Linked DNA regions of Homo sapiens. The protein of the gene in region 3 interacts with the protein of the main gene of each other region in a pairwise test. Each region holds a gene or a part of one and is shown on either strand. Other genes may lie near its edges. The genes, in order: KLHL2, CTNND2 and TBKBP1.

Region 1 (3,752 bases), on a different chromosome or scaffold from region 3:
TCAATCAATGATGTTTATTTTCTATGCAAATAACAAAATTTGAATTATTTACTTCTATAATTTACAAGATACAGTATAATCCAATTGAGCATATATTTTAAAATTATTTAAGTTCATAAGAGTATTTTAAAATCTCACCCTCATTCCATATTCCTGATAATCTGAAACAAACTTCTGATAAGATCTGTTCAGCTCTTCCTTTTTAATAACCTAGGCTAAGGACCTCATCCAAGCACCTAAATTATTGGAAAGAAAGAACTAAGCTGGCAAAGAGTGGAGGACATGTATTCAATGTTAAGCGGGGAGAGGTGAAAGCATCCATATAAATTTGAAATAGCAAGCAGCTTACAAGCCAGATTTCAAAAGTTTTCATAAGTATGGTAAATTATGACACCAAGAGTGGAGTAAAAATGAAATAAATTTGAATTAGATGATTATATATAGACCTTTAATACCTAGCACATCTGTAATAGGTTCTCAATATGAATTTGATTGTGTTGAAGTAAACTGAATAAACTGGAACCATCAAACACTGCAGGAAGGTGCATCCTTTTGGCAAAGTGATTTGGCTCCTATCGCCTAAAAGGAATCTGGTGTTGTGAGTTAGTGGGTTAGTAAAATTGATGTCTTCTGAATGTATAGCTAAGATATTCAAATGGATGTATGGACCAACCTCCCTTTCTGCAGTGGGATGCTCTTTAATCTGTGAGCCCCTCATAGATATGATTGGGAAAACTCTTTAGAACAATATAGTCTCCTTGTTCATGCCTTCCATCATAGCAGGGCCATTTTTGAGATCATTTTTTCTCTCACAGTCCTATGTTGTCCATCAATAGGCTGAAATACAGTGTTGCATACACATGTAACTACTGTGTGGAGCTTGTGTGGCAGCAGCATTTGATTCTTGCTTTTAAGTATTTGAACAACTTTAAAATGGTATGAGTTTTTTTCCTACAAAGTTTTGTAGATTTGGGCAGCATTATTCGGGATTCTTTGATGCCCTCTAGTATAAGTTCATAGTAGCACTGAACTTTTTATAAGAAATTAAATGTACTTTTAAAAAATTACATTGAAATAGCTTTTTAAAAGCATTTACCATTAGACTCAGCAGTTTTCCTTCTAATAATTTATATTAAGAAAAATTGCTCAAGTATTCAAAACACTGTTCAGGGGATCTTTGTTCATTGCAACATCATTGGTAACAGCAAAAAAATCAAAATTACTTAAATATCCATCAGTAAAAAAATGATTAAATAAACTGTCATACATAAAAATTACATTTATATTTATTAACTTGAGGAAATGTCCAAGGTAGGTTGGTTGGCCAGGGTGGGTAAGTTATTTAATAAAGTAGCATGTGTAGTGTGAGCTACTTTGGGGTTAAAAAAGAAAGTGTCTGAGTATATATGCATGGAGAAAAGTTAGCCAGAGTAGAGATCAAAATTTTAATGGTCATTATTCTAAGAGACATAAGGTTGGAGGTCATCTTTTTTTCTTATAATACTTTTCTAGATGTTTTGAATTTTTGCAAAGAAAAGAGTTATTTTAATAGATAAATAATATTGTTCTCTTTAAAGGGAGATAAAATAGCTAACCATTCAGTGTGATAATTAAAATTAAGAATATTTTTACCTTCTACTAACATATATTTTCTTCCTTAAGATTCCCTAAGTAGCTGACTTTGACTTTTTATTAAAAAAAAAAAAATGAGGGTCAAAATAGTTTCTAACCTATAATGTTGTGAAAATTAGGTAGAATAATGCATATATAAAGTAACTACTGCATAAATGACACTCAGTAGGAGCTTAGAAGTGGTATTATGGTCTCCTAATATAGAAAGAATTCTTTTTTTTTTTTTTGGAGACAGAGTCTCACTCTGTTGCCCAGGCTGGAGAGCAGTGGTGTGGTCTTGGCTCTCTGTAGCCTCTGCCTCCCTGGGTTCAAGTGATTCTCCGGCTTCAGCCTCTTGGAGTAGCTGGGACCACAGGCACACTCCCCCATGCCTGGCTGATTTTTGTATTTTTAGTAGAGATGGGGTTTTGCCATGTTGCCCAGGCTCATCTCGAACTCCTGACTTCAAGTGATCTGCCCACCTTGGCCTTCCAAAGTGCTGGGATTACAGGCGTGAGCCATGGTGCCTGGCTATCCTAATATAAAACGAATTCTTTTCATGCTCACTATTTTCTCTTCTTGCCTCCTTTCAAAGAAATTAGTGTCTCTGGATTACCTCACTAAACATGTACAGTGATACTCATATTCATCCCAATTTTTTAAATAATTGTTTTCTCTCTGTAATTTTTTAAAGGAGTTTGTGCAGTTAATGGTCTGTTATATGTTGTTGGAGGGGATGATGGTTCCTGTAACTTGGCGTCAGTAGAATATTATAACCCAACAACCGATAAATGGACAGTTGTGTCATCGTGTATGAGCACAGGGAGAAGTTATGCAGGTAACAGTTGTCTCTAAAGTCAATTTCCGTACAAAAAGATGACCTCATTATGAATGTTATATTAACGAAGTTTTTCTGTTATAAGAATAAAGTCTTTTCTCAAGGTATAGTTTATATCTTATTCTTAAGATGATTAACATTGGCTGTGTATATTCTGAAATAAAGCACCAGTATACTTTTGTCATTCTACAGTCATTTGTATTCAAAATCCCAAATCTTTGATATACAAAATCATATAATAAAATTTAATGTAGCTAAAATCTGTATGCAGAGGAGAAGAATTCATATGTGGCAAGGCTTTAATTCCTGAGATGTCCAAGAAATAGGATAGGATTCCTACATCTCCCCATGGTGTGGCTCCATGAGATAGTATTATAGTGAGGCTGTGGAATAATTTTTCTTTCTTAAGCATAGTACTGGTTGAGTTATAAAATGTGATTTTTTGGTCCATTCTCTTAGTAAGATAAATGTTAATTTTAATAAATATTATGGTGAGTCTTTATGTTATTTATTTCAATTATATTTATCTTGCTTTTAATAGTATAATGTTTCTGTAACAAAATTGATCCAATAGTGGAGGAAGAAAATGTTTAAGCTCATTAACCATCACTGTTGCTTATGTATCATTCAAAACAGTACTGAGAAGAACTATGTACAGTAGAATTCCAGTATAACATGGGTGAATATTAGATGAATTTTTAAAACAACTTCATTGAGGTATAAACTGACAGAATACATAGCGTACAGTTGACCCTTGGACAACACAGGTTTGAACTGTGTATGTCCACTTACATGTGGATTTTTTTCAATAATTATGTTGGAAAAATTTTTTTGGAGATTGGTAACAGTTTGAAAAAACTCAGATGCACTGCATAACCTAGAAATATTGAAAAAATTAAGTTTAAGATTATGAACACATAAAATATACGTAGATACTAGTCTGTTTTATCATTTACTACAAAATATCTACAAATCTGTTACAAAAAGTTAAAATTTATCAAAACATATGCACACAAACTCTTATGGGAACAAACACCCACAAACCATAGATGGTGTCATTCACAGTCCAGAGAAATGTGAACAAACCACAAAGATACAATATTAAATCATAACTGCATGAAATTAACTGTAGTATGTTACTGTACTACTATAATAATTTTATAGCCGTCTCCTGTTGCTGTATTGGTGAGCTCAGCTGTTGTGAGTATCCACTTAAAAAGCTGTGGGGGGCTAATTACCTTTGAAAGAGCAGTTTGTCTCTTCAGCGATGCGTATCTCAGTAAAAAGTTCTCTCTCATGGTTC
Region 2 (3,752 bases), on a different chromosome or scaffold from region 3:
TTTCCCTTGACTCAGCCTGCCTCTTGCCCCGGCACCCAACTCTCCTTCAAAGAATAGGCTGTGTATATCCAGGCATTCACCACTGTGGCCCTGCTTCTCCAAAACTGCCAACTGTCATTGGCTTTCCTTTTGAAAATTGGATCCTAGGTCCACGTGCTATCATTCTACATAATCTTTATCATGGCAAAATATACATAACATAAAACAGCTTGCTTTAAGAAATGTTGAAGTGTAAGATTAATTAGGTGGCATTAAGAACATTCACAGTGTTGTGCAACCATCACCACCATCCGTTTCCACCACTTTTTAAATCATCCCAAACAGAAACTCTGTGCCCATTAAATGTAATTCCTCATCCCCTCTCTCTCAGCCCATGGCAAGCACCATTCTACTTTCTGTCTCTAGAAATCTGCCTAATATAGGCACTGCAGAGAGTGTTTGTCCTTGTGTGACTGGCTTCTTTCACTTAGCATAAAGTTTGCATGGTCCATCCATGGTGTTGCACATGGCAGACCTTGATCCGTTTTTGTGGCTGAATAATATTCCACTGTATGATGTGCATTGCTCCACTGATGAATGCACTGAAGGCCATGACTTTACCTCAATGTAGCAAAACTGCACTTGCACCCCCATGATTGTATATATATAAGAATAAAATAGTCCATGGTATGCATAGACCACATTTTATTTATCCATTCATCCATTGATGGACGCTTGGGTTATTTTTACCTTTTAGCTGCTGTAAATAATGTTGCAATAAACATTGGTGCATTTGTATCTGTTCTAGTCCCTGGGGTCCCTTTTCAAGCACCTGCCCCTGAAATGAGCAGAACCTCCCAAGGTATAGGGTGAGGTTAACCCTACAGCAAGTGCATACCGGGATGCACAAAGCTCTGCTAATGTGCAGTAATTGGGGAGGAGATCTGGTGTGAATTATTAAACACTCTTAAAGAAATACTGTTTGATCACTTTTGGGTGGACTCAGTGACTCCCTATTAATTTAACTAAAGTTCAGCACGGAAACGTTCTCTAGAAATTGGTCTTAGTTAATAGATAATGATTTGTAATTAGCACGTTGTGTGTAAATGAATGCTTTTAAAGGCTTACACATAATTCTTCTCTCAAGTAAGTGAAACTCCCTCTTATATATGTCATTGATTTATACTAGTAATCAACCTGATCTTCAAAGAAGTGGTGAACTTCATCACAGCAGCTGTCTAGGATGTCCCACGTGTCTAGTTAGTGGTAGCTGAATGAATGAGGTTTCTGTCTACCTACAGAAGTCCAAAAGTCCATAGAGGATAAACCTTTGTTAGCCTGAGAGCTAACAAAGGATGAGAGGAACATTTGGAATGAATGTGCAACATCTGCAATTAAATACTGCTAAGTCCAGGTCTACTGGACTGCGTTGCTAGGTTGGGGTGCCCTTTGCTATTCTTTGAAGAGCTCTGCTTGTGTGCTGCTGAACTCCACTCCAACACAGGGCTGTTTTCCAAGTGCAAGACATGCAAAGGCTCAGAATCTAGAAGTTTGGAAAAATTATACAGGGAGGGAACTAGATTTGCTGTGTTTCTTGTTCAGCAGGGCACCCTATTCAACATTTAGCAAATTCTTTAATACTCCAGTAGTCATAAATATTTATGTGTGTTTGTGTCTGTCTACATCAATATCTATAATCTATCATCTGTCTGTCTTCCTATCCACCCACCAATCCATCCATCCATCCATCCCTCAAGCAAACTCCCACCTTATAGATGAGAAAACTGAAGCACAGAGAAGTTAAGAAACTTCTCCAAAACGTCATAGCTAGTGGTGTTGTGAACTGGAACTGGAACATACGGCTGGCTGACTCTAAAACCCAGGTGTTCTACCAACGTAGTCCAGTCCCATCAGAGCCAAGGTGGCCAAACCTTGGAGGACAGGCCTCAAGGAGCTGACTCTAGGCTCTAAGATAAGAAAGTCGGTGGACAAAAGAGACCAAGAAGCGGTGTGTTTTCTTATGGATTTTTGGGGGCCAGGGAAGGCAGTGCAGGGGACAGGGACATCTTCAGGAGGAGTCACTCACAAGGGTTATAGCTCTCCTCCAAAGTGGCTTCTGCTTTCATTTTTTTGGTTCTTTTGCACAACCTCGTTCAAATTGCTTTGACTGTTGTCATGTTCTCTCTGGTTGGTGAACATTTGGGAGCTGGGTATCAGCTTTTTCAGCCTCTTACCCCAGAGAATTAACTTCTTCATTCATCTGTACTGTTCATAAAATCCCACACCAATCACTTCTGAGGTTTGGTGCCCCAGTCCCAAAAGTGTGTACAAATGAACTGTCACAGGTGACACGTGTCACTGCTGCACCCGGAGAGACAGAATTTGCTCACTGTGGTATTTGCTCTTGTGGTATGGACATTTCTGTGGTATTTGCTCTTGTGGTATCTTGTGGTATTTGCTCTTGTGGTATGGACGTCTTGTGGTATTTGCTCTTGTGGTATGGACGTTTGCTGGTGAAACACATCCACAGTGGAGGAATATTGGCTGCATTTTAAACTTTAAGGGAATATCTGACAGTTGAAAATCTGGCTGATGAAATGACCCCTCCCAAAGCCCTCCTCACATAAGAGCTAAAAATAAATGCATTAAAAATTGCACAGTTTGCATCAGCCAGATTTGGATGAGGGATGTAGAATGATGCCCCAATAGAGCAGAGGGGATTTCTGAATCTGGGTGTCTGTTACGGTCTAGAGAAGCCCAGGAATACGCAAGCCCGAAGCTTTTGCCTTCTTTGCCTTAACGCTGCATCTTGTTTTGGAAAGGGGTGGTGACCAGCAGCTCACTCCAGGGTCAATATGCTCACGCTCTCTGCGCTCTGTTCCATGGCTTCTGTTTCTACCAAGTCATCTTTGCTGAACTTTTTCCTCAACAGTAGAATATTCACTCTAAATTATGAAGGATAGTGTCATGACACCTTCCAACTCTGTTAGCATAATGACAAAAGACTTCTTTGGGTTTATTCCTTAATGAATTTGCCAGGAAACTGGATTTATTTTGAACACAAGGGAAATAGTAGCCCAGTATAGCTCTTCCAACTTTTCCATGTCTCAGAGTGTTCATAGAAAGACTCAGAGTGTTCACAGAAAATGAAGGAGGCCAGATATGAAGTATCAGTGGTCTTCAAAGCATAATCCCAAGACCAGCAGCATCAGCATCACCTGGGAACTTGTTAGAAATGCAGATTACTGGGTCCCACTCCAGACCTACTGAATCAGGGCCTCTGGCGATGGGCCCCAGCAATCTGTGCTTTAACAGCCCTTTGGGGAATTCTGGCTCATGCTCCAATTTGAGAACCATTGGCACAGAGGTAAAAAAAATGGGACAGGAAGACAGAAGAACCAAGATGAGTATTTGCCTCTTCCTGGCTGGGGGACTGAAGGAAACACGTATCCTCCTGGGATCTCATCTTCCTCATTTCTGCAGACAATTACAACTGGCCTGCTCACGTGACAGTGGAACTAAGGACACCAGGAAGGAACTCAAGATTCCGGTTTTGTTATCATTTAAATATTGGTCATCAAAACAGCAAAGCTCTTTGTTTCTAGTTCCTGAACAAAAATCCTGTTGTCAGCTAGATAGATACCGTTCAACATGATATTTCTCTTTGTAATTATGGGGTGGACTGGTAGAAGCTCAAAAGGATGTTTGGAAAGTATGCATAGTTAAGTCTTTTTTTTTTTTTGAGACAGGGTCTCGCTTTGTCACTCAGGCTG
Region 3 (3,752 bases):
CTGCCCCTTTCTTGGTAGGATTCAAGGGAGTACCCTAGCAGAGCAGATTCTAACTCCCCACCCCACGGCTGTGTGAACCCATGGAAACCTCTCCTGTCTCTAAGCCTCAGGCTTCTCTCTCCTGAGATCAGCAGACAAGGCCCAACAAATCCCAAGAAACACCACCTCCCTCTTCCTCACTAGGGAGGGGAGGGTGAACCCAACTGGCCGGGCCTTGTCACTGGAATAGAAAATGGGGCCCTACGGAGGCCCAAAAGCTCAGCAGGGGACATTACACTGGACACAGCGACAAAGCAGCCGAGTAAGTGTCACTTAGCCCTGGCATCTCCAGAAGAGATGGGTTTGGGCCCCAGAGGAAAGCAAAGGGAATGTCCCAGATCCCAAACACTCAAGAACCCCACCTCCCAGGAGTCGAGACCAGCCTGACCAACATGGAGAAACCCCATCTCTACTAAAAATCCAAAAAAAAAAAAAAAAAAAAAAAAAAAGGTCCGGGCGCAGTGGCTCACTCCTATAATCCCAGCACTTTGGGAGGCCGAGGCGGGCGGATCACAAGGTCAGGAGATCGAGACCATCCTGGCTAACGCAGTGAAACCCCATCTCTACTAAAAATACAAAAAAAAATTAGCCAGGCGTAGTGGCGAGCGCCTGTAGTCCTAGCTACTCAGGAGGCTGAGGCAGGAGAATGGCGTGAACCAGGACGCGGAGCTTGCAGTGAGCCGAGATTGCGCCACTGCACTCAAGCCTGGGTGACAGAGCAAGACTCCGTCTCAAAAAAAAAAAAAAAATTAGCTAGGCATGGTGGTGCATGCCTGTAATCCCAGCTACTCGGGAGGCTGAGGCAGGAGAATTGCTTGAACCCGAGAGGCAGAGGTTGCGGTGAGCCAAGATCACGCCATTGCACTCCAGCCTGGGCAACAAGAGCGAAACTCCATCTCAAAAAAAAAAAAAAAGAACCCCACCTCCTTCCTATGAAGGATGCACACAGAGCAACAGCAGCCCAGACACCACACCCCTGAGGGCTGGGAGGGGAGGTCTCCCAAACATCACGGAGGGACCAGGGTTACCAATGTGACTTACTGATCATCCCCAACTCTTTTCACCCACGCCATGTCTCGCTCCGACTGGTTGGAGGCCAGATCCTAAGGAAGAAGATGAAGAGGTCAGAGCCCAAGCTCACCCCTGCCAGGGCCCTTGTCTACAGTTCCCTGGGCCAGTCTGCACACAGTGGGGAAGGCCCAGCCCTGGACCTCCAGAAGCTGTTCCAGGCCCCTGCATTTACCTGGGCCCGGGTCTCCTGCAGCTGCTTCAGCTCCCCCTGCAGCCGCTCGCACTCGGCCTGGAGCTGCTCCTCCCGGAGCTGAGCCCCCCGGGCCTCTCCCTGCGCGGCCTCCAAAGCCTCTTCTAGCCGCCGCCGCTCCAGGTCACTCACACTGGGTGTGGAGCCCGGCCAGCCTGCTGTCGGTGGACAGGACAACGTCAGGCGAGCTCAGCTGCCTCCTCCAGCTCCCAGAGCCAGAGTGAAACAGGAGGATGCAGCATGGGGACTCCAAGAGAGAAGCCAGGACAGCTAGCCAAGGAGGGATGACTGCGACAAGGGCAGCGAGGAAAGATGGGCTGAGCCGCATTTCTAATTTTCCTGGAGGCCAGGAAAAAAATAAGATGGGCTCTTGAAGGCTTTACTGGCCAGACTCAAGTCTAGAGCATCTGCAAGGGCCTCTCCTAGTCACAGCCAGAGACGGGGCGGGGGGACTCTGGGTGGGGGCGCCCTCTGCTGGCAGGCACAGGAATTGCAACGAGGTGATCAGGAATGACCGAGTTAGAAGGGGAGAAATTAGGGTAACAGTGGGTGAGGTGAGGGGACAGCAGGTAAGGGAGGATGGGATGATTATGGAGAAATAGATTATATTACAAATGGGATGGTAAGTAAGTGCGAGGTGTCTAGGAATGTTGAAATGGGGGTTGGGGACTAGGAGGTAAGTCGGGGTCACTGAGATCTCACCATGACTCAAGCCAGATCCCCCTCTCAGTGCCAGGTAGTGCAGGTCTAAATCAGTGCAGGGAGGGGCGGGGGCTGGCGGTGGGCTCAGGTTGGAGAAGGCTGCATCCTGGAGGCCTTGCTGTTGCCGCAGCTGCTGCTCCAAACCACAGATCTGACGCAGGTGCGTCTCCACCAGGGCCCTCTGGAGAGAGAGACAGAGGGGAGGGTCTGCACAGGCCCAGGACTTCCCCATGTCTGGAGAGTCATCACCCCAGACTACAGCAGAGGCCCCAGGTCACACATCCCAAGCCCACTCTCCAAGTGGCTGTGAGTGCAAAGTCTCCTCTCAGCCACCGCAATGCAGCTGTTGCGGGCTGTTGCCCCTGGCGAGGTCAAGTTAATGCCCCTGCTCTGTCATTAACACACAGGGACACTTAAAAGAACACTCAGCCCCCTGTTTGGAGGCCAGCCCCCCTCAGGAGCATCAGAACTTCCATTTGCATACATGACAAGAGCTTCTGGACTTCACCCACCTGATCCATAAAATGGGGATAACAGTCCCACACTCACCTCTTAGGGTTGTTTTGAGAATTAAAATGAGCTAGTGTATGCCAGGTGAAAAGAACAGTGCCTGGCACACCCCGAGTGCCACATAAATATCTATGATTATGAAGGCAAAGCATCTATACATGAATGCCCCATCACCCTCACCACAACCTGGTGAGGGTGTTAATATTTGCCCCACTTTTCAGAGGAGGGATGGAGGCTAAGTGACTTAACTGAGGTCATAGCTTAGGGTTGGCTGAGACCATGTCTCCTGATTTTTTTTTTTTTTTTTTTTTTTTTTGGAGACAGGGTCTGGCTATGTCACCCAGGCTGGAGTGCAGTGGCTTGATCTTGGCTCACCAAAGCTTCGATCTCCTGGGCTAAAGCGATCCTCCCACCTCAGCCTCCTGAGTAGCTGGGACCACAGGTGTGCACCACCACACCTGGCTAACTTCTTTTTTGTATTTTTTGTAGAGATGGGGTTTCACTATGTTGCCCAGGCTGGTCTCAAACTCCTTAACCTCCCAAAGTGCTGAGATTATAGGCGTGAGCCACCATACCTGGCCTGTCTCTTGATTTTGACCTGCTCACCGGCACAGCCATACCCTGACTCGGAAGCACACCCAAGCACAGGCCCATCCTAGCAGTCACACACTCCTGGTCACCTCTGCCCTCACCCTCACAGCCTCCCAAGGGCAGTGCTCACAGGCACAGGGTCACCCCAGCGTGAGAGCCAGGGCAGTGCTCACAGGCACAGGGTCACCCCAGCGTGACAGCCAGGCATACACACAGAGACAGAGGTTCCCACGGGGCCACTGCATGGCCAGGATGCACACAGACACCGCAACATGGATAACACATGCAGTCTCCCTCACAAGGGCAAATGGGCGGGCACTCACAGATACACATGAACACAAGCAGGGCACAAACAAGTGATGTGTGACACATGGGACTGCACTGTCACAGGCTGGAATCCTCACACACAGAACTAAATGCACACATGCACACACACAACCAGCTACACATCCTCAAGCACCTCCGGCTCCCCAGGCCTCACCATCTCCCTCAGCTCTGTCTCCAAGTCACTCTTCTCCACGCAGAGTTTCTCGTAGGCCTGGATCATCTCTCCAAGCTGTTCTTCCTGCTCCTTGTTCTTCTGTAACTGGATGAGGCCCAGAGGGCCCCACCACAGGGTCAGTCCCACACTGGACTTGGAGTTGGAGAG

What was found.
Region 1: the proteins of TBKBP1 (region 3) and KLHL2 interact in a two-hybrid assay, tested with the Homo sapiens proteins (one study listed by BioGRID).
Region 2: the proteins of TBKBP1 (region 3) and CTNND2 interact in a two-hybrid assay, tested with the Homo sapiens proteins (one study listed by BioGRID).

What each region holds. Positions count from the first base shown.
Region 1 is NC_000004.12:165,315,521-165,319,272, forward strand, and holds part of KLHL2 (kelch-like protein 2), read left to right. Parts: intron 1-2,305; coding exon 2,306-2,449; intron 2,450-3,752. UniProt on the Homo sapiens protein: Substrate-specific adapter of a BCR (BTB-CUL3-RBX1) E3 ubiquitin ligase complex that mediates the ubiquitination of target proteins, such as NPTXR, WNK1, WNK3 and WNK4, leading most often to their proteasomal degradation.
Region 2 is NC_000005.10:10,973,750-10,977,501, forward strand, and holds part of CTNND2 (catenin delta-2), read right to left. Parts: intron 1-3,752. UniProt on the Homo sapiens protein: Has a critical role in neuronal development, particularly in the formation and/or maintenance of dendritic spines and synapses. Involved in the regulation of Wnt signaling.
Region 3 is NC_000017.11:47,697,026-47,700,777, reverse strand, and holds part of TBKBP1 (TANK-binding kinase 1-binding protein 1), read right to left. Parts: intron 3,690-3,752; coding exon 3,585-3,689; intron 2,184-3,584; coding exon 2,003-2,183; intron 1,459-2,002; coding exon 1,283-1,458; intron 1,143-1,282; coding exon 1,081-1,142; intron 1-1,080.